Regions from separate parts of the Homo sapiens genome. Here all the other regions are linked to region 4. Evidence: fine-mapped expression QTL. A gene starts in region 4. Each other region holds a variant in brackets. All regions are shown on one strand. Distances are from middle to middle.

Region 1 (5,035 bases), 110 kb before region 4:
AGAGCAACCTAAGCCAATTCCTCAGAGTATTGGGGTGACAGAGTTTGTCCACACTCTTTGGAAAGATGGACTTGTGCAGAGGAAAAGGTGGAGAAAGGTCTGTGTTGGAAGAGGCAGAGTATCCCAGTTGACCTACATGGCTGCCCTTAGCCAAAGCCGGAAGAATTCAGTTTACCTTCCTAACTAGATTGTATGTGTAGGTTGATTGCCAAGACGACTCAGAGAACCCACGGAATCATTTTAAGAAAGGTGCTAGGAAAGGGCCCCAGGAGAACACACCTAATGCTTCCATGTGAATGGAAAGTGGGAAGAACCAACTTTGACTCATGCAGTTAAAGATCTTCTTTTGTGATCACAATTCCCTTTGTTCTTTTGTTTTTCTTGGGTGGTTTTTGAACTGCAAGTGCAGAGCTCACTCATCTGTGCAAATCCTCTGGTATGGATTTTTAAATTAATTTTTCCCTTCATCTCCGATCTTTTCTCTCATTCTCCTACACACACATCATAGATAAATACTTTAATGATGGCTTACGTTTTTGAGTATGTATCTCTGAATAACAAACAATATTGTTTTATATATTTATGTGTTTAAAATTTGTATAAATTTGGCCGGGCACAGTGGCTCATGCCTGTAATCCCAGCACTTTGGGAGGCTGAGGCAGGTGGATCATGAGGTCAGGAGTTCAAGACCAGCCTGACAAACATGGTGAAACCCCATCTCTACTTAAAAATACAAAAATTAGCCAGGCGTGGTGGCGCATGCCTATAATCCCAGCTACTCAGGAGGCTGAGGCAGGAGAAATCGCTTGAACCCAGGAGGCAGAGGTTGCAGTGAGTAGAGACCACACCACTGCACTCCAGCCTGGGTGACAGAGTGAGACTCTGTCTCAAAAAAAAAAAGAAGAGAAAAAAAGAAAATTTGTATAAATTTGTAGCGTATGTATCATTCTGCTTCTTATTTTTTCCACTCAGCACGTTTTGGTTGTTGCCTGGATTTTAGTTCATTGCTTCTGGTTCCTGTATAATGCTCTATAGAATGCATTTGTTGTATTTTGTTTGTCCATCCTCCTAACAATAGACATTCAGCTTGTCCCCAGCTCTCTGCTGCCATAGCAGTGCTGCCATGACCATCCTTACACAGCTTCACTTACGTGGCTAAGTGACACTTTTTCTGAGGTTTATATCCCAAGGGTGGTATTGCTTTTCTGAGGTTTATATTCCAGGGGTGGTACTGAGTACAAACAGACTTTAAGTTCACCAAGCACCAGCCAACCACGACACCCATCTGCATTTGCATTCCTACTTGCAGGGTGGGTAGGTTCCTAACACACCACTGGCAATATTTGACTTTGTTAATCTTTGCCAACCTGGTGCATATAACGTGCTATCTAATTATTAAAGTTCTATTTACATTTCTCCTATTAGTGAGTTTGAATACTTTTCATATACGACTTAGCCACTTGGGATTCACCTTGTATGAATAGCCTGTTAGTATTCCTTCTTATTTTTCTTTTAGAGTTTCCTGTACCTTTCCTATTGATAATCAGGGTTTTCTTATATATTATAAATATTAATGATATAAATATTTTCTTACATCTATTGCCCGCTTATTAATTTTGTCTATGGTGTTCTTCGTGGCTTAGAAATTATTAATTTGGTTCACTCAAATCCATTCATTTTCACCTTATGATTTATGCTTTGGGAGTCTGGTTAGAAAGTCTTTTCCAGCTAAATATCAAAAATATTCTCTAAAATTTCCCTCCAAGACCTACTTTAACTCTACTCCATATATTTTATCATGAAGCATTATCACTGTGATAACTTCTTAGTATTTCATAACTCAGTTTATAAATTACTCTTTAGTCCAAGGATTATTCAAATGATGTGTGTTTTGGTTTGCAGGTATGAGAGTTTTCAAGATATCTTGGTGTTACTGATTTGTAATTGTATTGCATTGTTATATATATCCTGAAGCTATTTTGTTGGGGTGAGAGGAGAGTTTAGCAGCCTCATATCTTCTTAACCTATCACTTTATTGGTTAGTTGACCTTGTCCTTTTTTGTCCCCTACATCTATTCTGTCTGATACTATATCCTAGCTCTCTTTTGGTAAATATTTTCCTACAATACCTTTTAAAAAATATTTATTTGGGTTTAAATTTCCTTTTCTCCTGCCAACTTTTTGTTCTTTTCTTTTTCCTTACTTGCTTTCTTTTAGATTAATCAAATATTTCTATCATTCCATTTTATACCCATTAATTTGCAAGTTATACATTTTTTTCTTTTGTTTTTTATTTTCTTTCTTCTTTTCTTTTTTGTATACAGGATCTCACTCTGTTGCCCAGACTGGAGTACAGTGGTGGGGTCATGGTTCACAGCAGCTTCAACCTCCCTGGGCTCAAGCAATCCTCTCATCTCAGCCTCCTGAGTAGCTTGGACTACAGGTGTGTGCCACCACACCCAGCTAACTTTTTGTATTTTTTGTAGAGATGAAATTTCGCTATGTTGCCCAGCCTGGTCTTGAACTCCTGGGCTCAAGCAGTCCACCCACCTTGGCCTCCCAAAATGCTGGGATTACA[G/A]GCATGAGCCACCATGCCTGGCCTTGTTATCTTCTTTTTATTCTAGTAGTTACTGTGGAGTTTGTCACTTATATCCCTGATTTATTAGAATCTAATTGTAAATTAATCATTTAACCACTTCCTGAACAATGCAAGGACCTTTGAGCGTGCCAGCACTCTTTATCCTCTCTGCTTGGTGCTGTGTTGTCCTGTATTTAAATCACATGTATCTTATACTACAGACAATATTTGTAATACGTACAACTGACAAAGGGCTTATATCTGAAGTCTACAAAGAACCCTTATATATCAGTTAAACAAACACATAACTGGATAGAAAGATGGGCAGGAGGTCAGGCACGGTGGCTCATGCCTGTAATCCCAGCACTTTGGGAGGCCGAGGCGGGTGGATCACCCAAGGTCAGAAGTTCAAGACCAGCCTAGCTAACATGGCGAGACCCTGTCTCTACTAAAAATACAAAAATTAGCTGGGCCTGATGGTGGGCACCTGTAATCCCAGCTACTCGGGAGGCTGAGGCAGGAGAATTGCTTGAACCCGAGAGGCAGAGGTTGCTGTGAGCCAAGATCGCGCCATTGCACTCCAGCCTGGGCAACAAGAGAGAAACTCCATCTCAAAAAAAAAAAAAAAAAAAAGGAGAAAAGAAAGATGGGCAGGAAACTTTTCCCAAAAAAAGAACACCCGCATAGCAAATAAACCTATCAAAAGGTGTTCCACCTTATCAGTTATCAGAAAATGAAAACTAGAATCATAAGATATGGCTGGGTGTGGTGGCTCACACCTGTAATCCCAGCGCTTTGAGAGGCTGAGGTGGAAGAATAGCTTGAGCCCTGGAGCTCAAGACCAGCCTAGGCAAGATGGGGAGACCCCCATCTCTACAAAAATATTTTTTAATTTATCCAAGTGTGGTGGTGCTCACCTATAGTCCTAGCTACTCAGGAGACTGAGGTGGGAGGATCTCTTTTTTTTTTTTTTTTTTTGAGATGCAGTCTCACTCTGTCACCCAGGCTGGAGTGCAATGGCGCGATCTCGGCTCACTGCAAGTTCTACCTTCCCGGGTTCACGCCATTCTCCTGCCTCAGCTCCCGAGTAGTGGGGACTACAGGCACCCACCACCACGCCTGGCTAATTTTTTGTATTTTTTAGTAGAGACGGTGTTTCACCGTGTTAGCCAGGATGGTCTCGATCTCTTGACCTTGTGATGTGCCCACCTCGGCCTCCCAAAGTGCTGGGATTACAGGCGTGAGCCACCGCACCCGGCCGGGAGGATCTCTTGAGCCCAGGAATTTGAGTTTGCAGTGAGCTGTGCAACACCACTGCACTCCAGCCTGGATGACAAAGCAAAACTCTGTCTCTTTAAATAAATAAATAAATAAGATACTCTTACATTCCCACTAGAATGGCTAAAAAAATTTTAAGACTACTAATAGCAAACATTTGGAAGGATGTGATTCTCTGATATGCTCTCTCATATACCATTGTTTCAAATATATTTGGTGTAACTACTTTAGAAAACTATTTGGCATTGTCTCCTAAATTTAAACATTTGCATACCTTTTGACCCAGCAGTATCACTACTAAATTATACACCCAATAGAAATGCATGCATGTTTTCACCAAAAGACATAGCCAAGAATATTCAAAGCTACATTATTTGTAATAGCCAAGAGTTGGAAACAGCCTAAATGTTCACCAAAAGTAAAACAGAAAAAATGTGATGTTAATATAAATAAAATGATTAAAACTACTCCTATGCTTAACAGCATGAATGGCTCTCACAATGTGTAGTGAAAGAAGCCAGATGCAAAAGAATCATACTGTACAATTCCATTTATATAACTGGAGGAGGAAGAAGGTTGTTAGTGACTGGGAAGGCTTTACCAGTCCAGAATCCCTTCCTGCCAGAAATTAGGTATTCTGTCTTATAAGATAGGAAATACACAATTCAGAGCTCCAAGATATAATATTTGTTGCATCTGTTGAGACCTAATATATCAGTATTTAACATTGAGCAGTGTTGCTATAAAAAAGAGTAAATGATCCTCTGGCACCTCCTCTGAGTGCTTTCCAAATTAGCAACACCAAGCCTTGCCAGCAGATGGCGGGCCCTGTACACATCTAGGCTGAATAGCCAACAAGAATTTAAGTTAATATTCCAGACTATTCTACAAAGTTACTTTTGTGTTTAGCCAAGTTGTTTCAAACTTTGCTACTTCTTTTCATCCTAATTCTTCACCCTGATATAATCACCACAATGTGCATGTTTAAACTGTATAATTTTCATTCAATTACTTTGCTTCATTTCCTTATTGAAATGTATTTTGTCCAAATTTATCTGCTTTAGAAATTAACAAGGTGTTTTGGATTTATGCACTTCTGTAGGTAAGCTTGAACCATGAGGGCCTTTTCTTTTGCCAGGTCTTGGAAGTGGAAGGCCAAGATAATTTCTCAGGCAGCGC
Region 2 (5,035 bases), 32 kb before region 4:
AAGAGAAAGCTGGTTCTAGAAGGTTCTGTGTAACCTTCTCTGGAATGTTTTGCTGACTTCCCATAACTTGCATAAAGGACAAGTTCCTTTGAAACCCGAGTTGTAAAAGATCTTCCTTGCCCAGGTATTTAAAAATAATTCATCCTTTAAGTCAGAAATATATGCTGGATGTTGTCTTCCTGCAGACCAGCCCCTGCAGGCTAAGGCACCTGCTGCAGGGGGAGGGCCCCGGGAATCCCTGTGGCCTCCTGCAGCCCTGCTTCCGGCTTCCCTCTGCCCTCGGATGCCCGTCAGGACTGGAGCCGGAAGGTTCACTGACTGACCTTAAAGGCTGGCCCCTACGTCCTTTCTCAGCCCGAGCAGAGGCCCAGCGCTCTGCCGTGGAGGGCCTACCTCACAGAGCCTGGTCCGCAGAGAGCAGCCCCAGGGCTGCCTGAGTCTGCTCAGGGAAACAGGGCCACAGCCCGGAGCAGACACAACCTGGCCAGCAGGGCGCCATCCCCTTTGAGGGCAGGGAAGGCGAGCCAGGGAGGCCTCCAGTGCAACCCTGACCATCCTCCTCACCCATGTCCTGCTCACCAAGCCAGCTAAGGGTTGAGGGCCTCAGCTCAGTGAGGATGGTCACAGGTGATTTTAAAAGATGGGAGGGGCCAGGCGAGGTGACTCATGCCTATAATCCCAGCACCTTGGGAGGCCGAGGCGGTGGATCACTTGAGGCCAGGAGTTTGAGACCAGACTGGCCAACATGGCAAAACTTCGTCTCTACTAAAAATACAAAAATTAGCTGGGCGTGGTGGCATGTGCCTGTAATCCTGGCTACTCGGGAGACTGAGGCATGAGAGTTGCTTGAACCTGGGAGGCGGAAGTTGCAGGGAGCCGAGATGGGGCCACTGCACTCCAGCCTGGGTGACAGAGTGAGACTCTGTCTGAAAAAAAAAAAATTAAAAAAATAAAAGATGGGAGGAAAACATCTCATGTTTTATGCTCTGTGCTACAATTCTCCTCTCATTTATAGCCCCTACCAAGTCTTCTCATAAATGGGTCTGGGCACCTGCTGGGCAGCAAAGGCTGGATGGGAACGGTGTGGGGGGCTGAGGGGCACCACACTCACCCCACCCTCTGCTTGTCTGCAGGGCCCCCAAGGTTGCTTCGAAGCCAAGGCAGGCATCAAAAGCCAAAGTGGCCTTCTGCACCAGCATCCCTCAGGACACCCTGCTGGGGAAGGCCCGGCCCGGCACAACAGCAGACTGAGGCCCCCACCCTGAAAAAGCCTAGGACATTCCTGGGCACTGTCATTTAGGGTGCTGTACAAATCACCTCCGCCTAGAAAATGGAATTCAACAGTCAGGATACAGATTTCCAAGGCCAACTGTTGGCCCCAACATGCAACAGTGAGACCATAAGCCTCCCGTGGGCCACATTTTGACAGTGGATGCCCTTCAGGGTGATATATGCTATAAAGCAGTTTTCTATCACCTAAGTGGTTTTTCTTGCCAACAAGAATTTTTACCCATCAGCACTACTGTGGCTGAAAAACTTCTCTTCAACAGTTCAGTGCGCCCTGTGCAGGAGTCAGCCCGGCATCTGCTTGTACACACAGCTCCTTGCATAGGTGTGGAGTTAGATCTGGACAGTGAACTTCAGGAAGTCCTTTCTTATAGGAGGCTAATAGGGATTGAGAATAACATGAGAAGAAAACGCTAATAAAGGGAAACCTGAACACGCTGCTGTCAGCATGTGTTTTCAAAGTGCAGCCTGCCTCAGAGTTCTTCGGAGCCTGAAAAGGGGTTTGAGAAAGAGCCCAGTAGGAGGGGCAGGAGGCCGACACACCTGACTTGGCCTGGGGCCCAGGAGGCAGGTGTAAGGGAGTGAAAAGAAAGGCTAGCCGGAGGCTGCGGGGGGAAGACCGCAGACTCCCTGCTGCTTCGCATCCCTCCTGTGGCCTCCACTGCAGGCAGGACAAACCTGGATGCCACCTGGAGCTGCTTCCTGAGTTGGCACACTATCGTGTACACAGCAGTCTTCAGCCCCCTGGAAGGAGGCCATAGTCGTGTGAGGATGGCAAAGTCGAACAGGAAGCTTTGAGTGCCTTCCTCCACGATGTCAACGAGGAGATCCAGTGCCAGATCGAGGTGGATGGAACACCCAGGGGTAGGGGTGCAGGTGTGGGCAGTGATGTCCCTTCCCCTCCCTCCCCTGGTCCCACAGACTGTGGCCATGAGGCTGCAGGCTGGTGCTATGACAGCAGATTGCAGCACAGGGCCCTCCCCTCCAGCCCCCAGTGGGACATCAAAACCACCCTGGGGCCATTTGTGCAGGGCACCACCTCCAGTATTGATGGGGAAAATAAACTCAGTAGAGCCACGACAGGGTGGAGAGAAGCAG[G/T]GACCATTGTCTTCCTCAGGAGCGTGACAGCTGACCCCACAGACCATGCTTGCTGGTACACACTGGTCCCAGACCCAGGCCTGTCGGACATCAGCAGTGTGCTAAAAACGTGTAAGATGTCACTACTCACCGTGTGTCCTATCTAGTTGACATGGGTGGAGTCAGCTAAGGGGTGAATGTTCATATGCTCCCAATTCACGTTGAAGCCCTAATCCCCAAAGGGATGGTATTGGGGGTGGGGTCTTGGAGAGGTGATTAGGTTATGAGGGTGGAGCCCTGATGAATGGGATTAGTGCTTTATAAGGAGAGACACCAGAGAGATGATCTCTCTCTCCACCATGTGAGGACACAGTGAGAAGACAGCCGTCTGCAGGCCCGGAAGAGAGCCCTCACCAGGAAATGAAACTGTTGGCACCTTGAGACTTCCCAGCTTCCAGAACTGTAAGAAATAAATGTTTGTTGTTTAAGCCTTTCAGGCTACGGCTTTCTGTTACAGCAGCCTGAACTGAGAGTCCATGCCGAGTTTTTGAAATAAATGTGAATTCTGATGTTACTTCTTCCTTTCTGTACTTCTTGAAGCGTAGCTTGGAATCACAAAAACTAAAACACATTTTTAAAATTTAGCGCCCCCACCCCACCCCACCCCAGGAAGCAATGAATTTAGGAATGTTCCCTCCAATGTCTCCCATCTGTTAATTCTGTTGACTTCAACGAGAGGAAGACTATAGCTACTTGTGTTTTTCTATTTTTGGTAAAGGGCTACAAGGTTACAAACGGGTAAAGATATCTAGCTATTCCTTTGTCTCAAACTACCTCAGTTTTTTCAAGCCCCTAAGAAATGGCCATGCCTTAGGGTTAACCCTCCAATTTGCACTTATAAGGTAACCAACTGTCCTGGTATGCCCAGGACAGTCCTGGTTTTAGCACTCAAAGTACCACATCCCAAGAAACCTCTCCATCCCAAATGGGATGGTTGGTGGTGTCCTACTGCCACTAGTCATTCAGGCTGTGATGATGACATTTTTACCACAAATTGTCCAGTGTATATTTGATTACAAGCCAATTGGCTTATGCTCTGTCTGCCAGGCTTTCTAGCTCTGTGCTCCCAATATTGAGTTCCGATTCAGGTGAGGAATTAGAGAACTGGAACTTTTCATATATATTCTGCCCAGTAATTCTCTGCTACCCTAAAAACATGCATGTAAACACACAGATTCTTTACTTAGAGTTTAAAGGAAACATCAAAATCTACTGAAAATATTCATTCTCTTTAGGAACAATGTGGGTTTTTTCCTCAGATTTTTATTTTTGCACATTCTTGTGACATTTCCCATTGTAGGGAACAGGAGTTTAGCAAAATCAGCTTCTTAGATGATGTCATTCTAAATATACATCTTAAACAAACAATATCAAAACCACCAGTAGGAAACTGAAAAACACTCAGTGAGTACTGTTTTGTCTCAGTAACAATAAATACAAAAAGACTGGTTGTGTTCCGGCCCCATCCAACCACGAAGTTGATTTCTCTTGTGTGCAGAGTGACTGATTTTAAAGGACATGGAGCTTGTCACAATGTCACAATGTCACAGTGTGAAGGGCACACTCACTCCCGCGTGATTCACATTTAGCAACCAACAATAGCTCATGAGTCCATACTTGTAAATACTTTTGGCAGAATACTTCTTGAAACTTGCAGATGATAATTAAGATCCAAGATATTTCCCAAAGTAAATAGAAGTGGGTCATAATATTAATTACCTGTTCACATCAGCTTCCATTTACAAGTCATGAGCCCAGACACTGACATCAAACTGAGCCCACTTAGACTCCTCACCACCAGTCTGTCCTGTCATCAGACAGGAGGCTGTCACCTTGACCAAATTCTCACCAGTCAATCATCTATCCAAAAACCATTACCTGTTACAGCTAAAACAAAATCAGCACATCTCTGTCTGTATTAGAAACGACAAAACCTTACAAAGCAGTCACCTCCATACCAGTCTGACAATCACTAGTTCATTTGGCAGATGGACAACAAAGGTTTAAACTTGCTATTCCAATCAACTTTCTTTCCCTATCTGATTCATGGTGTTTTTAAAATAGTATCTTGAAAGCTGTGCTGCATTTCTCCTCCACTTATCAATGAAGAAAACGTGCTCTCCAGAAACTACCTGCGGTAGCCACTCCCAGGACCTGGGGAGACGTGCACCCTGGGGGTCTGAGGGCCTCCAGGTGAATCTGAGAGGGAAGACCCTCCAGTGCTGTCGTTGTAGCCTGGCTGAGGGTGGTGCTAGCTCAGACTGTTATTCCCCAGTGCGCCACAGTCAGTGCGATGATGCTGTGTTACTGGAAATACAGCTGAGACAGCATTATGTGAAAGAAGCTAGCCTGAACTAAAAAAAATGCGCTGCTAGCGAAACTCTTTTTATATATGATGCTACACTTTACAGACAGAAACTTTAAAACAATACTGACGTGTAAAATAAAATGAATCCAATGAAGCATGCTCATCCCAGTATCTTAAACTCGGTGGTGCCTATCTACAGGTCCACACTCCGCGGCCCATGAGCATGGGGGCCTTTCTCGCCCCCCAGGCCCGTCCTGGGTATCTCGGTGCTGGGCTGCAGGAGAGATATCCAGTTCCTTCCCC
Region 3 (5,035 bases), 22 kb before region 4:
CCCACACCCCAGCTGGCTCAGCGGGGACAGGGCTTTCTCTCTCCCTTATGGAGCCAAGGCCAGAGGCCTCCTTTGCACAGATCCCAAGATACAGGAAAGAGACCAGGCCAGGACATTTTCTACAAGACTCCTCTTTTCAGGTCAACTGATCCTACTGATCCAACTGAGAAGTCCCAGAAGATGAACCCCCAGGCAATAGTGCAGGGACCATCTCATTTACAGTTAAGATTCAACAAGAAACATGGAAGATTACAGACTGGGTTTAGGTCCACCGGCTAGCGGGCAAGCGGCCAACATTATTTTATGCAATATTATAAAAGAAACACAAGCACACTAACAAGTATTGATAAGTTCACTACTTAGGAACTTATCTGTATATTTACTCAACAGAACAGAACTATCTAGAAGCTCAACGTCTAATAAAAATTCCCAACTAGTAATTTTTATTCTAAAGCTTTTGGCATAATATGTAATTGCCAGAATAAATTTAGTTTACAAATATTAAGTCTCTATTTCCTTCAAGAAGCTTGAAAAATAATGAATGAATGAATGAATGAATGAATGAATGAAGCAAGTTAACAGCAACAGCTGTTAGCCCCTCTGTGTGCTCTCCCTCGGCCCCAAAATCACAACTGGGAAAATTTGAGCAAGGCCCTGGCTTAGACTGTTGGTCTTCCTCGGAGCTCCTGGGCCCTTTTCTTCCTTCTCCCCTCTCTCTAGGTTACATGATGGATGTCCAAACTTAGGTATCCACAGGTTAAAAATGTAGGTAACTAAGTAAACCTTGAAATCTGGGGAGTTAATTCTTGTTTTATAGATGTCACACGTTAACTGATGCCAGGCAGGTTGACCAATGCCTACCCTTCCATGAACACCTTTGCTTTTTTCAAACTTACTCTCAAAATTAGAAAGAAAATTTGCTGCATGTTGTCTAAGACCAGATCCCTTCCAGTTATAGATGACTAGAACCCAAATATTCTTCTCAACCCAGTGACATGTCAAATCCATGAGTTGCCTAAAAGAAACAATGAAGACTAAAACCATGCTGCTGCCTAAGGTGTGAACTCAACATTCTATACGTAATTTAATCGACACTTGCTTAGCCAGAGCTCTTCAAGATTCTATAGGGCTTTAAAAGGTTAAAAAACAAGTTATCCCTCAGTTTCTTAGGATCTTTCTAATGAACATTAATGATCTTATGTCAGTTCTGCAGCCATAGGAAGGATGGGCCCTGTCCTGAGGCTCTTGGCCTCAATAAGGTAGTCTTCAAGGCACCAGGACACATTTTCCTGAGCTGCTCACAACAACCTAGGGTGGTGTAAACAATGTAACTATTCCCATCTCTCTTCCTGTTAGGGTAGCAGGTTCCAGAGTGCTGCCTGCCTGCCATCCAAGGCCATACCTCCCTCTACAGGTGTAACAACCATAACCCCTTGGTCTGGAAATGGAAGGAGTGTCCCTTCCAGGGGTGTGAAACACAAGTTCAGGTGCACTCCTGCTCGCCCTCACACTGCCCAGTGCCATTAGCCCCTTCCGCTCCTGCATCCTGTCGAGAGAGGGACCAAGTTTATCAAGCACCTTCCCAAACATTCTCATTCACATAATTGAAATTATGTCACACTAAACTAAAATCTATTTGGTACTTAAATGAGAGATGAACTCCTGTTATCTAAACACCATATCTAACCCGTTCTTCCCGATGATGGTGCTTTACTATCTAGCCACAGAATAAACAGTTCAGATGCCTAAAGCTAAGTCAAGTCATTAGCTTTTACTTACCTGACGGCATGTTTTCAACGTGCTCAGCCCAGATCACTATCTCTGGATTACTTTCTCCTTCCAATAAGGCCCTGTAAAAATAATTTACAAACATAATTCATTAGGAAACGAAAGAGTAAGAAGTGCCTCTAATAAAACGTATCGTGGTATGCGGCCAATGACCATAGTGTCACCTGTTTTAGGACTTCTACCTGAAGAGGAGACTTGGGCAGGGCTGCACCATAGGGCTGGCAAGCCCACCCACCAGCCTCAGCAGACCTGGGCCAGGCCACCTGCTCTGCTCACCGCCACATCCCTGGCAGCCAGCATGGCGCTCAACCCCTACTAGCCCAGTGAACAAAATGACCAGGCCAGGGCTTCGGCAGTACTGGCGAGCCAAGCCCTTCTAGAAAGCTTTCTCAGTCCAGGGTGAAGAGGAGCAGGAGCAAGGGGGCACTGGAGAGATGTGGGCCCCAGGCTAGAGGGCCCCAGAGCAGCTACACCCCCCACTGGGTTCTTCCTGGAGTCACAGCTGGTGGGGGCAGCTTGCAGAGGGCTGACCAGGAGACGGCAGGGACTGACACTTATAAGGCAGCCAGACTGCATCTGTGGTTTCAAACTGCATTCCAGGGGGTCACCTTGGAGACGACAAAAAGAAGTAGAAGGCAGGCAGAC[G/A]GAAAAGGTAGTGCTAAAGCGCCCCCCGTCAGTAGCCCCTCCCCATGCCACCCCCAGGGGCCTCACTTCATCCAAATTGGCATCCTGTTATCTCCTTTAATAAAATGGTGAGAAGTACCCAACAAGGTGATTTCTTTGACTATGTCTGCGCCAAAGTTCTAAAATTATAGAAGTTTCATTAGGTTGTTCACGTCTACTGCTTCAGATCCCAGAGCTGAGGAGAGTGGTCCCAGCAGACCCAGCCTGCTGGCGAGGGGCTTAGCACCGGGATGCCTGTCAGCCAGTCACTCGCGAAGACCCCTTGGGCTGCTGGCAGCTCTGGGTGCAACAGTTTCTCAGTTGCTAGAGCAACATGTGAAGTCACTAACTCCGGTTCCAAGAAATACACTGCACACGGCAAAAGGCATCCAGAACAAGAGCCCACTGAGAAATGCCAATCTTATGGCTGAGAGCTGGGCACAAAAACGGAGCAGGGTGCCCACACCCGAGCAGGGACTTGGCAGCTTGGACAAACTGCACTGAGTTGTATTTCCATCTGTTGAAACATGGTGAGCCCCATGAACACGAGAGCCCTGTGAGCAGCTGGAAGAAAGCAAAGGAGGCATGAGGCACTCTCGCGAAGGCGCACACAGCGGGCCTGCCCCGGCGCAGTGACTGCGGGATGCTTGTGTGTGGACGGGGCATGTGCAGAGGCCCGAGTCCAGAGCCCCAGCCCTTCGCTCAGGGCAGAGGCCAGGAAACAGGACACCAACCCATTAATCCCACGCCCTCATGACCAAGCATTGTAGGTTCCAGGAACGCAAACAGCTTTCACTGCTGAGAAAGTTCTGAGGTCTATATAATCAGAGGAACATTCGGGGTAAAAGCCAGGCCCCAAGGCTCTGCACCCCAGGATGACGGCAGCAGAAGGGGTGGCGTCCTGCAGCTGAGGAGCCAGGGCAGGGCGTGGGGAGAAAGACTAGGTTCTAGTTCAGATCCTCCCGGCCTGGCTCAGCTGTGAACCTCGGGTACCACGGGGCCTCTCCCTTGAGCTGCCCAAGTTAGAACGGAAGGTATGTTGCTGTCCAGGGAAAAATACGTCTTCCCCACCCTCCAAAGGGAATGCATCTGCTCCTCTTCCAGAATTCCAAAGCATCACCAAACCTTCATAGAGTTCAGGACCCACACGAAACAGGCACCAGCCCTGCGTGGGGCTTCTGGCTGGGTTCAGGGGACAAGATACAGCCCCACAGCTTCCCCTTTCTAGGCCTTTACCATCCCTGGCTGACACTGAGCACCAGGCATTGTGGTCACTCATGTACTTACACCGTCGAAGCCACCCCCAACACAGGGCCTGTGGCTGCATCCTCGCTCTAGAGGTGAGAAGACTGGGGTGCAGAGACAGCGTCTTGGTCAAGGGCATACGGCTCACCAGTAAAGAGAAAAATGCAAACCCAGGCAGCCTGAGCTCTCAGCCCCCTCCCCTGCGATACCACTAGGCCTCCCAGTGAGGCCAGAGACCATGGTATTGCACACAAATTTCAGAAAGCACAAATCCTACAGATAGACCCTCCGGGCCATATTAATGAAAATAAATTCTCTTGGTGATTTCATCCAAAATGGCCCTGCAGAGCTCTCCTATAAGTAAGAAGCTCCTGCTGGAGAAGGAGCTATCCCTCATCTGTGTCCCTTCTCAATGGCCGGATCCTAGCAGGCAGCGACACATGTCACCTTTACTATCTGTGAGCACCCGGCTGGGCACTGGCCATTGAGTTCATGCTTTGGGTAGCACATCCAGCCCAATGGCAGCCACCCTCCTTCCGCACAGCCCCAGGACTACACGGCGAAAGCATCAACAAGACTCTGAGGAGAAGCCAGAAACCACGACTTCCTCTAAAGCTCTGCAAGGGACATTTTTAAGGAATAGGTTCGTACCACTTTAAGAAATGGGTAGCATGTTCTCTGAGGCTGCAATCAAACCTGGTTATTTTGAGAGCGGTGGAGGAAATCTGCCCCCAAGCCTCGGGGACTGTGAGAAATGCCAATCCCCTGAGTCATGGGCTATTGTGGGCATTTCACACAGCTCCACAGGTTGGTGGCCCCTTATGCAGGAAAATAAGCAAAAGTGCAAGAAAACTCAAGTCCCTGGCCTCATTAAGGAGCCCAGGACAAACCCACAGTGCAGAAGCCGGCTGTCATGTGGCCTCTGGCCAGGCGCCAGGCCCTAATGGGCCACCCGGCGTCCTGAGCAGGCTCCAAGGCAAGGCTCTCTGTCTGGGATAGATTATCCTAATGGAATTGCTGAACAATCCGCCGTGACTCAGCACCGTGGGCACAAGGCCACTGCTCTGTGCAGCCCCATAAATGAGGCACTGTCAGGATGTTCCCAGAAGCCGTGTCTGTGCGGGAGCCTGCTGGGGCCGGGGCCGGGGCCTGTGGGTGATTCACGGGGTGCTTCCTAGCAAACAGCAGGTGGAGAAGTGCAGAGAAGAAAGGGAGGCTCCGGAGCTGGAGAAGGAGCCGCAGAGCCGCCTCCCTCGACTCCTCACTGCGACAGAGGAAGCCAAGCTCCACACAGAGTGGACGCACTGCCTGGGTCACCCCAGATGCGGGCCCGTGGCTG
Region 4 (5,035 bases):
TTCTAATTTTTAAAAGTCAGTCTCAAATCTTTAACTCACAGCTGCAAACTGTACTCTTAAAATATTTGTGAAATTGTGCAGATGTTATTTCCATCTGTCCTTTTGAGAACTACTGATAGTGTGATTTGGGAATATTTCCAATTCTGGCTGAGGCAGGGCAGGGCGAGGGCCAAACGCTAGGGCTGGACTGGGCATAGTTTACATCAGCCACAGGTGTCACCCCGCCGGTGTCAGAGGGTTTGCTTCCCTGAAATAGTAACTGTTTATATCACTCTGCACTTGTAATAACATCCTGCCAAAGGGCCCCACTTTCCCACAACTTTTACACTACGCAGAGATCTGACGTCAGCGTGTGCTGTGAGCAAAACATCTTCGATCAAGCTCTGTTCTGCATGAGGGTTGCTGCCCCTCCCAAGATCAAACAAGGCAGCCGCCCAGAGAGCCACAACTGCGGCTTCCAACTGGGAAATCATATTGGCAAAATAAAAACCGTTTTGGAAATTAATTTGAGTTTTCCCCTGAGGAGCGCTATAGACAGCGGGGCTACCATAAGCCGTCACTTCTGCAAGTGAGAGAGGTTTCTCGGTTGACTCTTAGATCTGGGTCTACTGAGTCTACGGAGCACGGAAAATGGAAGGAAAACCTAGAGCTAACAGGGTGGCCTATCAGGATGCGCCCAGTCACGCTTGTCAAGAGTTAAAGCAGCTGCCACCTAACCCCATGACGAGGACGGGGCTATCCGCTAGGACCTGCCGCCCCGCGCTCGCCCGCTGAGTCGATGGACCAGCGGACCGAGTCCGGGTCCCCATGCCATTCGGGCACCCTCTGGGCGGGCCCTACCGGTCCGCGACGCCGCGCCCCTGGTGAAGGGGCCGCTGCCCCACGCCGTCAAGGGCAGGGTGCTGGGGCGACGGCAGCGGGTATGGGGTCAGCGCGCCATCCCCGCGCACGGACCTGCCGCTCCTCGGCCTGTATCCCGTACTCCTCGCGCATCCGCAGCAGCGCGTCCTCCAGCCGCGCGCGCAGCTGCTCCAACCCGAGCGCCTCGCGCCGCAGCGCCTCTGCCTCCTGCGCGCACAGCCGCGTCTCTTCCTCCGCCTGGAGTCTGCTCTCCTGGCCGCGCCGCAGCGCCTCCTCCAGCTCGCGCACCTCGTCCTCGTACAGCTGCACCGTCTCCCGCCACGACTCGGCCACCAGCAGTGCGTAGCTGTCGTGCACCTCCCGCAGGCGTGGCGGCGGCGCGGCGGGGCCGGTGGCGCGGGCGCGGAAATGCATGGTAAGGCTGGCGGCGCGCGCGCGCAGCTCCCTCACGTCGCGTTCGTGGGCCGCGTCGAGGCCTCGGCGCTCGGCCTGCAGCCGGCCCAGCAGCGCCTCGAGGGCGGCGCGCGCGCCCAGCGCCTCCTGCAGCTCGCGCTGCTGCGCACCCAGCTCGGCGTCCAGGCGGCCGCGGGCGGCGCGCTCCTCCGCATCCAGGCGCTGCAGCTCCCGCAGCTCGCGCCGCAGAGCGTCCCGCTCGCCCTCCGCCAGCGCAGTGGCCCAGCTCAGCTCGTCCAGCTGCTGCCGCAAGCTGCGCGCCTCCTCGGCGCAGCGGGCCTGCCCCTCGGCCCACAGGCCCTCTCGCCCGCGCCGGCCGCGCAGCTCCTCCTCCAGGAGTAGGTTTTCGCGCTCCAGCTCCCGCACCCGACACACGTAGTCATAGAGCCGGGCGTTGAGCTCCTGGAGCTCGGCCTTCTCGGGGCCCGTCTGCAGCCGCCAGGACAGCATCTTGCCGGGCGTGCGGGGTTCTCGCGGCTGGCCGGCTCCCTCCTGCCCTGGTCTTGTCCCGGTCTCGTCCTCTCCGCCGCGACGCTCCGGCCTCGCCGCTGCCCCGGAGGCCCGCAGACTGGGACGCGAGCGGGAGAGCCCAGGCACTTAGCGGACGGGGCGGGCAGACTGGGCGGGCGGCCTGGGCGAGGGCCGCGGCCTCCAGCCAATCAGAGCGCGGCCCGGCGCGGCCTCTGCGGCCGCACAGCGCCCCCTGCCGCACCTTGGCGGCCGCAGGTGGTCGGTGCGGGCAGTCGGGTAACAGCGGGCGGGGTGGCGGGCTAGCCAGGCCGGGCTCAGCGAAGGGACGCCGGAGAGGGCGTCCGGGAGCATACGAGTGTCCTGGCCTTGGTGGATGGAAATAGAAGCCTATTGAGTTGCTGTGGTGCTGGCGATTTTGGAGCGACTTCTTACCCGAGGCCCTGGAGATTGGTGGCTTTTCTATTTTTAAAAAAACGATATGGGCCGGGCGCGGTGGCTCAGGCCTATAATCCCAGCATTTTGGGAAGCCGAGGTGGGAGGCTCGCTTGAGCCCAGGAGTTCGAGACCAGCCTGAGCAACATAGAGAGACCCTGTCTCTACCAAAAAAAAAAAAAAAAAAAAAATATATATATATATATATATATATGGAGCCTGGCGTGGTGGTGTCACACGCGCTGCTTGGGAGGCTGAGGCGGGAGGATTACTCGAACCCAGGAGTTCAGGGCTGCAGTGAACCTGATTGTGGCACTGCGCTCCAGCCTGGGCAACAGAGAGAGGCCTCATCTCATATATATACATTACACATACATGTGCATTAATTTTTTTTTTTTTTTTTTTGAGACAGAGTGTCGCTCTTGTTGCCCAGGCTGGAGTGCAATGGCACGATCTCGGCTCACCACAGCCTCCGCCTCCCGGGTTCAAGCGATTCTCCTGCCTCAGCCTCCCGAGTAACCGGGATTACAGGCCAGCGCCACCACGCCTGGCTAATTTTTTTTTTTTTTTTTTTTTTTTTTTTTTGTATTTTTGGTAGAGACGGGGTTTCTCCATGTTGGTCAGGCTGGTCTCGAACTCACGACCTCAGGTGATCCGCCCACCTCGGCCTCCCAAAGTCCTGGGATTACTGGCGTGAGCTACCGTGCCCAGCCTAAATAATCTTTTTAACTTAAAACATAAATATATATCCATTTACCAGTATTTTAATGTGCAAAATACTTCTCTTGATGTCAGTTGACAGGAGTCCCAGTTGCCCTTCTTATACAAGCTACCCTCATAGTACATTACATTTTCCAAAACGAATTTCTTTCATTTGGAGTGAAAACTTAGAGACCATAAAGTGCTCCAAGTACAGAACTTTCTAGACATCTAACATCTCCCCGAACTTTTACAAATCTCACACACACACCCCTAATGTGACAGCTGTTTCTTTCCAGCATTTCCCTAAGAAAGTATTCAGTTTAATTGCCATGGAAACCACAGCTCTTTTTTGTACACTTGCATTTCATTAGTTTTCATGGCAGTTATTTATGAATGACAGTTCTCAGTATAAGTGTCATTAAGGCTCACAGGGACAAACCAGCTGACCCTTGGTTGGGGTGCCCTTGAACTTGTGGCAACACAAGTGCCCAGGGCGAGACCTGGACGGTCATCCACTGGCCAGAGGGCTCCTCATGGCAGGGCCAGCAGTTAGTGTATTTTACAGATGGCATGGAAAGGTGGACTACTCAGCAAGCTGGTCCAGGGCCTCTGACAAAGCTTCTAGTGCTCTCCTTGTCACAGCCATGAGCCTCCAATCACAAGCAAGGCAGAAAGTGGCCCTTCCTTTTTCTAGAGACCCTATGTTGGAGATCCCATTCTGTAGGTGGTAGAAATTAATATCTTTCAATGAATAATTCCCTGTCCTTTTCTGCTAAAACTAAGTGGGGGTGGAAAGTGGGTTTATTCAGTGCTTGGGTTCATTCACCTTGGTGTGGGACAGGGGGATTTGGACCCCCATCACCCCATCATTGTCCATCCTCCCATTCCCCCAGGTGCACACTGACACCTGGCCTTTGCTTGTCAAACACCAGAGCTGCTGTGGTGTCATCGCCCAAACCTATGTGGAGACCCTGCCGGTCCTGGGCCCCTCTGGGACATTGGGGTGCGGGGGGGCGGCTCTCACAGTTGCCTGGACTCCGCTGCAGCTGTTTGTTCTCAGCTCTTTGACTCCCCACGCTAACGGGTTCTGCTGTCCCACATCCCCTGGCTGGGCAGGGGGCAGCCCTGCAGGGTGGGAGAGCCTTCTCAGGGACCAGTGAGTCCCAGCAGGACACTTTGCAGTGACTCATTAGTCTTTCTTTGCCCAGTGCCCTTCAGGGTCTTGGACTTTGAAACTCAAAACCCTTTCCCCCATTTCTGCTGTAAATCCTGTCCCTGAGGAATTGACTGCTCCAGCATGCAGCTGCCCCGGTAGGGAAAGAGTTATAGGGGATCAGGAACTAGCAGGGCCGGGAGGTGGGAGGGGGGAAGTACCCCCAGCTACTCTTTCAGGATAATATCCTGCTGCTTCATACTGAATCCTCACAACACTGAAGCTCGGAGGGGTGAAGTGACTAGAAGTATTAGAGTTGTGACCACAAGAGCAGACTTGAGCAGGCAGGGTCTGGCCAGGAAGCAGAGGCAAACTCAGAGGGAAGGGAATGATTGATGGGATGGGGATGGATGGGATGAGGAAGCACCAGGGACCAGCAAGAGCAAGAAGCTAAGAAGCCGTTAGCGCCTTAGGGTGTTGGCTGAGCCTGGAGAAGCCCAGAGCGCTGGAAAAGAGGAGCAGAATGGATCCCAGGAGGGAGCAAGAGGAGGAAAACCCAGTTCTTCCTTCATCCAAGCCTCCCTTCTCTTGCCAATACTTCCCGCTGTGGAAGCCAGAAGTCACAGGAGCCTGGCAGTGGTGCACTGCGGTTGGCTCCCACAGGTTTGTGAGTGCCAACTGTTAAATTTTTAGAATTTTATGAACCACTTGTTAAACACAGCCATTATTAAAAATTAATTATAGAAGCTTACAACTAATTATACAAAAAGAGCAAACACATATTCAAAACGTATCACTTCCTCAGTATTTCACTGCATTTTCCTATGATCTGCTCTTGAAGTTATGAATGAGCAGTGTGCCTGCACCATAGAAATGCCATTTAATGTGTACTACCCTACTCCATATTCACTGACATCATGTTGGTAGCTTGAGTATTTACAACACAGAAATCAGCCAATGACT
Region 5 (5,035 bases), 88 kb before region 4:
AGATGGAGTTTTGCTCTTGTTGCCCAGGCCAGAGTGCAATGGTACAATCTCGTCTCACCAACCTCTGCCTCCCAGATTCAAGCAATTGTCCTGCCTTAGCCTCCCTAGTAGCTGGGATTACAGGCATGTGCCACCATGCCCGGCTCATTTTGTATTTTTAGTAGAGACGGGGTTTCTCCATGTTGGTCAGGCTGGTCTTGACCTCCCGACCTCAGGTGATCTGCCTACCTGTGCCTCCCAAAGTGCTGGGATTATAGGTGTGAGCCACTGCGCTCAGCTAGTTTTTATTTTACATTTAGGTCTATAACACATTTTTAGTCAATTTTTGTGAAGGGTATAAGGTCTGTGTCTGAAATCTTTTTTTTTTTTTTTTTTTTTTTGCACGTGATGTCCAATTTTTCCAGCACGGTTTGTTGAAAAAACTGTCTTTTCTTCATTGTATTGCCTTTGCTCCTTTGCCAAAGATCAGTGGACTGTATTTATGTGGGCCTATTTCTGGGCTCTCTATTCTGTTCCATGATCTCTTTGTCTCTTCTTTTGCCACTGCCACACTGTCTTAATTACTGTAGCTTTATTGTAAGTCTTCAAGTTGGGTAGTATCAGTCCTCCAATTTTGTTCTTTTCCTTCCATATTTCATTGGCTATTCTGGATCTTTTGCCTCTCCATACAAACTTTAGAATCAGTTTGTCAATATCCACAAAATAACTTCCTGAGATTTTTATTAGGATTACATTGAATCTGGATATCAAGTTGGGAAGAATTCACATCTTGACAACATTGAGTCTTCCTATCCAATTTCTAAAAGTTGTTCTCTAAATTTTTCATGACTAAATCCAGATCTATCCTCAACGTCTCAGCTATGAGTTCCTAAAGTTCAAAACTTTAGTAAAAGTTTCAAACATTAAAACTTTTTTTTTTTTTTGAGATAGAGTCTTGCTCTTGCCACCCAGGCTGGAGTGCAGTGGCACAATCTCAGCTCACTGCAACCTCCACCTCCCAGGTTCAAGTAATTCTCCTGCATCAGCCTCCCGAGTAGCTGGGATTACAGGCACCCACAACCACATCCAACTAATTTTTGTATCTTTGAGTAGAGATGGGGTTTCACTATGTTAGCCAGGCTGGTCTTGAACTCTTGACCTCAAGTGATATGACTGCCTTAGCCTCCCAAAGTTCTGGGATTATAGGTGTGAGCCACCGTGCCCAGTACAAACTTTAAAACTTTCAAAAGTTCAAAAAAAAAGGTCTCGCTACCAGTTTCTTAAGTTCATGGAAAGACATCAGTGATTGTATTAGTCCATTGTCACGCTGCTGATAAAGACATACCCAAGACTGGGCAACTTACAAAAGAAAGAGGTTTAATTGGACTGACAGTTCCATATGGCTGGGGAAGTCTCACAATCATGGCAGAAGGCAAGGAGGAGCAAGTCATGTCATATGTGGATGGCAGCAGGCAAACAGATTGGTCAGGGAAACTCCCCCTTATGATCCTGTTAGATCTCATGAGACTTACTCACTATCACAAGAACAGCATGGGAAAGACCTACCCCCATGATTCAGTTATCTCCCACCAGATCCCTCCCACAACATGTGGGAATTATGGGAACTACAAGATGAGATTTGGGTGGGGTCACAGAGCCAAACCATATCATTCTGCCCCCGGCCTCTCCAAAATCTAATATCTTCACATTTCAAAACCAATCATGCCTTCCCAACAGTCCTCCAAAGTCTCACCTCATTTCAGCATTAACTCAGAAGTCCACGGTCCAAAGTCTTATCAGAGACAAGGCAAGTCCTGTCTGCCTATGAGCCTGTAAAGTCAAAAAGCAAGTGGTTTCTAGATACAAAGTGGGTACAGGTATTAGGTAAGTGCAGCCATTCCAAATGGGAGAAATTGGCCAAAACAAAGGGGCTACAAACCCTATGCAAGTCTGAAATCCAACAGGGCAGTCAAATCTTAAGGCTCCAAAATGATCTCCTGTGACTCCATGTCTCACATCCAGGTCATGCTGATGCAAGAAGTAGGTTCCCATAGTCTTGGGCAGCTCCGCCCCTGTGGCTTTGCAGGGTACAGCCTCCCTCCCAGCTGCCTTCACACATTGACGATGAGTGTCTGCAGCTTTTCCAGGCACACGGTGCAAACTGTCAATGGATCTACTATTCTGGGGTCTGGAGGACGGTGGCCCTCTTCTCACAGCTCCACTAGGCAGTGTCCCAGTAGGGACCCTGTGTGGTGGCTCCCACCCCACATTTCCCTTCTGTACTGCCCTAGCAGAAGTTCTTCATGAGGACCCCACCCCTACAGTAAACTTCTGCTTGGGCATCCAGGCATTTCCATACATCTTGTGAAATCTAGGCAGAGGTTCCCAAACTTCAATTCATGATTTCTGTGCATTCACAGGCTCAACACCATGAGGAAGCTGCCAAGTCTTCAGGCTTGCACCCTCTGAAGCCACAGCCCAAGCTCTATGATGGCCCCTTTCAGCCAAGGCTGGAGCAGCTGGGACACAGGGCATCAAGTTCCTAGGCTGCACACAGCATGGGGACCCTGGGCCCAGCCCGTGAAACCACTTTTTCCTCCTAAGCCTCCAGGCCTGTGATGGGAGGGACTG[T/C]GCAAAGGTCTCTGACATGCCCTGGAGACATTTTCCCCATTGTCTTGGTGATGAAAATTCACTCCTCATTACCTGCAGCTGGCTTGAATTTCTCCTCAGAAAATGGGATTTTCTTTTCTATTGCATTGTCAGGCTGCAAATTTTCCAAACATTTTTGCTGTCTTTGCCTTTTGAAACTGAATGCCTTTAATAGCACCCAAGTCACATCTTGAATGCTTTGCTGCTTAGAAATTTCTTCCACCAGATACCCTAAATCATCTCTCTCAAGTTCAAAGTTCCACAAATCTCTAGGACAGGGGCAAAATGCTGCCAGTCTCTTTGCTAAAACGTAACAAGAATCACCTTTGCTCCAATTCCCAACAAGTTCCTCATCTCCATCTGAGACCACCTCAGCCTGGACTGTATTGTCCATATCACTATCAGGCTTTTGGTCAAAGCCATTCAACAAGTATCTAGGAAGTTCCAAACTTTCCCACATTTTCCTGTCTTCTGAGCCCTCCAAACTGTTCCAACCTCTGCCTGTTACCCAGTTCCAAAGTCACTTCCACATTTTTGGGTATCTTTTCAGCAGCACCCCTCTCTGCTGTTTTGCTGTATTAGTCTGTTTTCATGCTGCTGATGAAGACATACCTGAGACTGGGCAATTTACAGAAGAAAGAGTTTTAATTGGACTGACAGTTCCACGTGGCTGGGGAAGCCTCACAATCATGGTAGAAGGCAAGGAGGAGCAAGTCATGTCTTACATGGATGGCAGCAGGCAAAAAGAGAGATTGGGCAGGGAAACTCCTCCTTATGATACCATCAAGTCTTGTGAGACTTATTCACTATTACGAGAACAGCAGGGAAAGACACAGAGCCAAACCATGTAAGTGATAATATGCACATAGTCATCTAGCAAGGACCATTTCTCCTGACAAAATTCACTGAACTGAAAGATGGCCTCCAAGAGCCAACACCAACAGTATGCATTCAAAGATCTGAGTTTGGTTTAGAGAAGCATTCCCCACACTGTGTTCCACAGAGTACTAGCATATCATGAGAGTTCATAGGTCTTCCTAGAAAAAAGTGTTTGTGGTTAAATAAAATTGAAAGGTATTAAGTTGAAATCAAACGCATTTACTTATGGCTTTATAGTGCATTAAATATGCCAATTTGGATTATGAATCAAGAGTAGATCTAATGAGTCTGTGAGATACTAGTGTCCCCAGGTCCCAGTTGAGCTTAGAGAAAGAAATGTAGACTAGGCACGGTAGCTCATGCCTGTAATCTCAGCACTTTGGAAGGCCAAGGCAGGCAGATCGCTTGAGCTCAGAAGTTCAAGACCAGCCTGGGCAACATGGCAAAACCTTGTCTCTACAAAAAAAAATACAAAAATTAGCCACACGTGATGATGCACACCTGTAGTCTCAGCTACTCGGGTGGCTGAGGTGGGAGGATTGCTTGTGCCTGGGAGGCCGAGGCTAGAGTGAGCCAAGATAGCATCACTGCACTCCAACCTGGACGCCACTGCACTTCACCCTGTCTCAAAAAAAAATAAAAAGACATATAAATGTCTAAAAGTAGGAATCAGCAAAGGAATTCAAATATGCATGCAGCATGTAGGTCTTGTCACTCTCAGGAGTCCTTAGCACTTTGGGAATGGGAAGTGAGTTATGTAGTGCCTTTCATTTGTGGCACCCTGATTCACCACCATTGTAACGTATTTTGCCACATTGGTTTTCTCTATCTATATAGACATACATACAAACATACACACATATATATACAGCCACATATACTCAGAGATAATTGTTTATATTTTTTAATCATTTGAAGATATGTTCAATATATCATGTCTTTTTATCCCTGAATACTTCAGTGTATGTTTTATAAGAACAAGGAAATTAGCTAGGCATGGTGATGCACGCCTGTAATTCCAGCTACTTGGGAGGCTGAGGCAGGAGAATCGCTTGAACCCAGGAGGTGGAGGTTGCAGTGAGCCAAGATCACATCACTGCACTCCAGCCTGGGTGACAGAGCAAGACTCCATCTAAAAAAAAAAACAAAAACAAACAAAAAAAAAAAACAAGGATATTTTCTTATGTAACCACAATACAGCTATCAAAGCCAGGAATTTTCTTTCTTTCTTTCTTTCTTTCTTTTTTTAGACAGGTCTTGCTTTGTCACCCAGGCTGGAGTGTAGCGGCGCAAACACAGCTCACTGCAGCCTCGCCCTCCCAGGTCAAGCAATCCTCCTGCTTCAGCCCTTTAAGTAACTGGGACTATAGGCGTGCACTGCCACACCCAGCTAATTTTTGTATATTTTTTTTGTAGAGACGGGGTTTTGCCATGTTACCCAGGCTGGTTTCAAACTCTTGGGCTCAAGCAATCCACCCACTTCAGCCTCCCAAAGTGCTGGGATTACAGGCATGAATCACTACTCCTG
Region 6 (5,035 bases), 77 kb before region 4:
CATGGAAGCTACCAAGGCTTGGGGCTTGTACCCTCTTAAGCCACACCCAAGCTGTACCTTTGCCCCTTCTAGCCATGGCTGGAGCAAAAAGCAAGGCACCGAGTCCCTAGGCTGCACACAGCAGGGGGGTCCTGGGCCCACAAAATCATTTTTCCTCCTAGGTCTCAGGGCCTGTGATAAGGGGGGCTGCTGTGAAGGTCTCTGGCATGCCCTGGAGACATTTGCCCCATTGTCTTAGTGATTAACATTCAGCTCCTCGTTACTTATGCAAATTTCTGCAGACAGCTTGAATTTCTCCCCAGAAAATGGGTTTTCCTTTTCTACTGCATTGTCAGGCTACAAATTTTCCAAACTTTTATGCTCTGTCACTTCTTGAATGCTCGGCTGCTTAGAAATTTCTTCCACCAGGCCAGGAGCGATGGCTCATGCTTGTAATCCCAGCACTTTGGGAGGCCGAGGCAGGTGGATCACAAGGTCAGGAGATTGAGACCATCTGGCTAACGCAGTGAAACCCGTTATCTACTAAAAAAAAAAAAAAAAAAAAAAAATACAAAAAATCAGCTGGGCGTGGTGGCACGTGCCTGTAGTCCCAGCTACTCGGGAGGCTGAGGCAGGAGAATCGCTTGAACCCAGGAGGCGGAGGTTGCAGTGAGTCGAGATCGCACCACTGCACTCCAGCCTGGGTGACAGAGCGAGACTCTGTCTCAAAAAAAAAAAAAAGAAAAGAAAGAAATTTCTTCCACCAGATGCCCTAAATCTTCTCTCTCAAGTTCAGAGTTCCACAGATCTAGGGTAGGGCCAAAAAGCCACCAGTCTCTTTGCTAAAGCATAGCAAGAATGACCTTTACTCCAGTTCCCAGCAAATTCCTCATCTCCATCTGAGACCACCTCAGCGTGGACTTCATTGTCCTTATCACTATCAGCATTTTGGCCAAAGCCATTCCACAAGTCTTTAGGAAGTTCCAAACTTGCCCACATCTTCCTGTCTTCTGAGTTCTCCAAACTTTTCCAACCTCTGCCCATTACCCAGTTCCAAAGTCACTTCCACATTCTCTGGTATCTTATAGCAATGCCCCATTCTGCTGGTACCAATTTACTGCATTAGTCCATTTTCATACTATTTCACTTTTTGTTTCATATTGTTTCACTATAAAAATTTTCTAAGAATGACATCAATCCAAGTGCCACAAAGGGGAAGATTACTGGTTTTTTTTTTTAAGTAATAACTACTTTTTTTAAAAAATGATACATGTTCTTTGTTTTTTAAAAATCAAGCTATATAGGAAAGGTCAAATATATGCCACCAGTCACCTCAGACCTCCTTGCCCAGAAATAGCCAGTGTTGACACTTGCTGAACAATTTTTCTCTGCATATATACAGATGAGTATACATTAGGAGACAGAAGAGAAAAAAAAGAGAAAGGAAGAAAGTGATAAATTTGACAGAGTAAAAATGAAAAACTACTCTGTGATAATATATCATAAAGTCAAAACATAAATGTCAAAGAGGAGAAAATATAGAAAGAGTTCTTTAAAAATCTGGATAAAAAAGACAACTCAGTAGAAACATGCACAAGACAGGAACATACAATTTACAGAAGAGGAAACATAAATAACCAATAACCATACAAAAATAATCCTCAGCCTCACTCGTAATTAAAGAAATGCAATTTAGCTGTCTGGCCATTGTGGCTGGAGCCCAGTATGGGTCATAGGAGATGAAGCTAAGAGCGGCACGTGGCTGGGTTATGATTATGTGTGTGTGTGTGTGTGTGTGTGTGTGTGTGTGTGTGTGTGAGAGAGAGAGAGAGAGAGAGAGAGATTTCTGGAACAATACAGGAAACTGATTAGCTGTAAGCCTGGGAATGGGGAGAAAAAGAGGTTAAGGCAGGTAGAAGGGGGAAGGAGTATTTTTAATTTCAATTGTTTATTCTTTTCCACCACTTAAGATTTTTTAAGATTCTATGCAGGTAATACTCTTATCATTTAAAAATCTAATTAAGTTTTAAGAAAACACATACTTGCAACCAAACGAAGAAAATATAAGCCCTTGAGGTATCTATTTTGTTGCTAATGCTTATACAGAGTAGTGCTTTTTCTCCCCAGCTCTTTGGAGGAGCTAAAATTGACAACTGGAGAGCTGCCACTGAGGACTTTCTCTGACTATTAAAAGAAACTGGCTTAGTCCAGGGCCCTCAGAACTCAGTTTTCCAATGCTCTCTGCTCCCAGTGACTTCCTGTTCATCTAATCCCCCAGGGATTCCCAGCTCCGTCTTTTTCTTAGCCAAGGTTCACCAGCTGCCCCAGGCCTCCAAGG[G/T]GTGTGTGGCCATGAAAGCCTTCCCTGCTGGGCAGAGATGGGAGAGGGAAGGAAATGGCAACCCGGGGCTGCAACGTGACCCTGTCTTACGTAAGGGTGTTAGCTCAGATTTGAAGGGTGAAATGACCAGTTTTGGCAGGGTGAAAAGGCAAGCTATGCAGCTTCACAGCTGGTCAGTTATAAAAGAAACAGCAAGCTCACACCTCCAATGACAAGTGGACTTGAACTTCTTTTGAATTAAGGCACAAACTTGAAACAAAGCAGAGTCGTAGACTCTCGGTCGACGACACCATAACATCTTCTCTATCCACCATCTGCCGCTTTTCTCTCCTTTATGGCATCCCTCTAAAGTGTTTAGAAGCTAGCTGCTCAGGCATCCACATGTTAGCATCTCACTCTTCCCTCTAGGCAGCCCAGTCCATTTCTGGACAGAGTCTACTCTTTGACAGCCTCTTTCTCTGACCCTTAAATATCTCTTCATTACATTGATTAGAAAATCATCTTTCTGTAACTTCTACCCTCTCAATAACCAAGTGTTAGACTGGAAAAGTATGCAGTTTGGAATGACAGGCCTTAGTCTGAGTCTCTGTTCTGCTGCTGACGCACCATGTGACCTTCAACCTCATCTCCTGGAGGCTTAATTTCCCCTTCTGTAAATTGGGCTGTTCACATCACTTTCAATGGTCATTTTGAGACTGAGTGAACTGGTAAGTGGTAAAATTCATTTAGTACCACACCTGGCAGAAGAAGGTGCTTAATCGATGTTAGTTCCCTCCTTCCCTGTGTCCCTCCAGTGCTCACCCTCAGCTGTACAAAGAGATCCTGGCTGTGACTAAGTTGAAGACTTCTATTGTCTCCTCGCTGAGTGTTCTCATCTCCAGAGTAAATACATTCAGGCTAAGTCCACAAATGTACCTTGATCTTCTTGTGTACTTAATCTCTACTTTGCTGTAGGAGAGATTTTGCTCTGTCACTGAACCCCAAATTATTACAAAGTGGGGGGAAAATATATTTCCCTAACCCCCAAGACCCACCCCATCCCCAAGAGCTGGGATTCCACACTCAGACTCCTTCCAGGGTTTGAAGTTGAGTGTTCAGATGATGGGGTCTGCCTGCAGAAATAGAAGTGTCTCTCATCCTTTTCACTAGTCATCAGGCTTTCTCTTTAGGAAATATTACACATTTTACCAATCCAAGGGGACAGGCCCAGTTAGATAAAAGCCTGCCAGCTCTGGCTGTGTCTGTCGACAGCTTGATTGGCACTGAGGAATCTGTGGTTTCCCCCAGACATACATACAAGGCACCAGGATGGAACAGCTGCTCTGTGCCTTGGCAGGGGTTGAGGTCCTTGGTCTTGTGGATGAGTTTTGTTTTTTTTTTTTTTAATTAATGACCTTGTTCAATGTGGAATATTAGAAGTTTTTTTTTGTTTTTAACCCAGTCCAACATGCCAGCACCCCAAGGGATTTGGAGATATTAAACATTCCTCCTCAGCTTCAAGATGACAGTTGATAAATGTAACCATAAGATACTGAAAAGAACAAAAGACATGAGGGGAAATGCAAGCCCTGGGGAGATTAATAAATCCTGAGGAGAAGGAGTGAGTGTGGTCAAACTATGGAGCCCCAGCGAGGCCCATTACTTGATCTCTTGCAGAAATCCAGGAGAGGCAAGCAGGATGCCTGTAATTCTGTTAACTGTGATTCCTAGTCCTTAAATGCTCTCAGATGCATGTAACAGGGTATTTATATTCCCTCAGCAAATGAAGCATTGTTTGAAAATTGTGAACAATGGTTGAGTTTGGAAAGACAGTGTAGTCTAAACACTAGCATTGTCAACGTCCTTTGCACTCACTCCCTAAGGAAGCCTCACTGCCCAGCATGTGCTGTGGTTCTCAATCTGTGTCACCCTGAGCCCTCATGTTCCATGGAGGTTCTTCTGGGGCAGCTAGCTGGGAGCAGGTAGTCAGACTTCCAGGCCCCTCCACCTGCTTCTGTGAGAGCGGCTGTTCTGCTCTTTCCTGCTGTGTATATTGAGAACCACAGAAGGTTTTGTTTGGGTTCTTCTGCTCCAGAAAAGAAACTTGAAAATCAATGGTGCCATGGTGTTTGCATCCTTTTACAAGTTGCTTCGTTCACTCAGTGGTATGTTTTTGAAATACAACCATGTTAACATATGTAGATGGAGTTCAATCAAGAACTTGTAGAATAAACCACAATATGTTCATTCCCCTGCTGATAGATATTTAGGTGGTTCCCCATTTTTTACCATCTCAATTAATGCATCAGTGGAGGGCATTTTCAACACAGGCAATGGGCGGTGCCCATTAAGCTGGACAAGAAGGGAAGGACAGCAGGAGGGTTGGATGACTAGTGAGAATGTCAGGGGGCGGTGGAGTAGATGTGCATGGAGGCAATAGATCTAGGGCCCCCCAAGAGCCAAAATGGGTCTGTGAGTTGGAGGATCCAGTGGTAACACAGAGTGGGCGATGATGAGGTCTGGAGTGTGACCCAGGGACTGGGCACCTGAGAGTAAGGAGGAAAGTAAGTTTGTCAGAAACCTGAGAGGCCAAGGTGTTGGCTAGGTCGTTGGCTGGACATTTCCGTGTGGTCCTTCAGCTACACTGTGCATCCTTCTCAGCCCTGCTCTGTGCCCCAGAGGCTGACCTTTAATTACCATCTCAGTGCCCTTTCCCTCAGACTGAGAGATACACAGCCT

Direction of the effects. Positions count from the first base shown, and alleles are read on the strand shown. Sizes are in standard deviations (SD) of each study's normalised expression. Not every link is listed here.
As copies of G replace A in region 1, the expression in tibial nerve of the gene that starts at base 1,884 in region 4 goes up (moderate effect, 0.54 SD a copy in GTEx).
As copies of T replace C in region 5, the expression in skeletal muscle of the gene that starts at base 1,884 in region 4 goes down (small effect, 0.16 SD a copy in GTEx).
In carriers of allele T in region 6, the expression in visceral fat of the gene that starts at base 1,884 in region 4 tends to be lower than with G alone (moderate effect, 0.48 SD a copy in GTEx).

Evidence for each region.
Region 1: its variant is fine-mapped to the expression of SYNM in tibial nerve (GTEx, PIP above 0.99).
Region 2: its variant is fine-mapped to the expression of SYNM in whole blood (INTERVAL, PIP 0.98).
Region 3: its variant is fine-mapped to the expression of SYNM in liver (GTEx, PIP 0.99).
Region 5: its variant is fine-mapped to the expression of SYNM in skeletal muscle (GTEx, PIP 0.98).
Region 6: its variant is fine-mapped to the expression of SYNM in visceral fat (GTEx, PIP 0.97).

What each region holds. Positions count from the first base shown.
Region 1 is chr15:99,213,029-99,218,063 of GRCh38, reverse strand. All of the region lies in intron 8 of TTC23 (tetratricopeptide repeat domain 23), which reads left to right. Among named protein-coding and RNA genes, the nearest start is that of TTC23, 34 kb to the left of the region's middle. RefSeq lists enhancers at 1-150, 3,294-3,794. The variant G/A (reference allele first, on the strand shown) is at 2,579.
Region 2 is chr15:99,134,226-99,139,260 of GRCh38, reverse strand. SYNM (synemin) reads right to left here. Exons shown (of 4, transcript NM_145728.3): 4 at 3,668-5,035. It overlaps TTC23 (tetratricopeptide repeat domain 23), which reads left to right. Exons shown (of 14, transcript NM_001288615.3): 14 at 1,134-2,938. The coding sequence ends at 1,251. Among named protein-coding and RNA genes, the nearest start is that of TTC23-AS1, 2.6 kb to the left of the region's middle. RefSeq lists an enhancer at 1,996-2,497. The variant G/T (reference allele first, on the strand shown) is at 2,386.
Region 3 is chr15:99,123,537-99,128,571 of GRCh38, reverse strand. It overlaps SYNM (synemin), which reads right to left. Exons shown (of 4, transcript NM_145728.3): 3 at 1,780-1,850. Among named protein-coding and RNA genes, the nearest start is that of TTC23-AS1, 13 kb to the left of the region's middle. The variant G/A (reference allele first, on the strand shown) is at 2,434.
Region 4 is chr15:99,101,929-99,106,963 of GRCh38, reverse strand. SYNM (synemin) reads right to left here and starts at 1,884. Exons shown (of 4, transcript NM_145728.3): 1 at 955-1,884. The coding sequence starts at 1,764. It overlaps SYNM-AS1 (SYNM antisense RNA 1), which reads left to right and starts at 1,087. Exons shown (of 3, transcript NR_187219.1): 1 at 1,087-1,276. RefSeq lists silencers at 775-944, 1,225-2,134.
Region 5 is chr15:99,189,898-99,194,932 of GRCh38, reverse strand. The region is part of intron 9 of TTC23 (tetratricopeptide repeat domain 23); the gene reads left to right. Among named protein-coding and RNA genes, the nearest start is that of TTC23-AS1, 53 kb to the right of the region's middle. The variant T/C (reference allele first, on the strand shown) is at 2,611.
Region 6 is chr15:99,179,011-99,184,045 of GRCh38, reverse strand. The region is part of intron 9 of TTC23 (tetratricopeptide repeat domain 23); the gene reads left to right. Among named protein-coding and RNA genes, the nearest start is that of TTC23-AS1, 42 kb to the right of the region's middle. The variant G/T (reference allele first, on the strand shown) is at 2,318.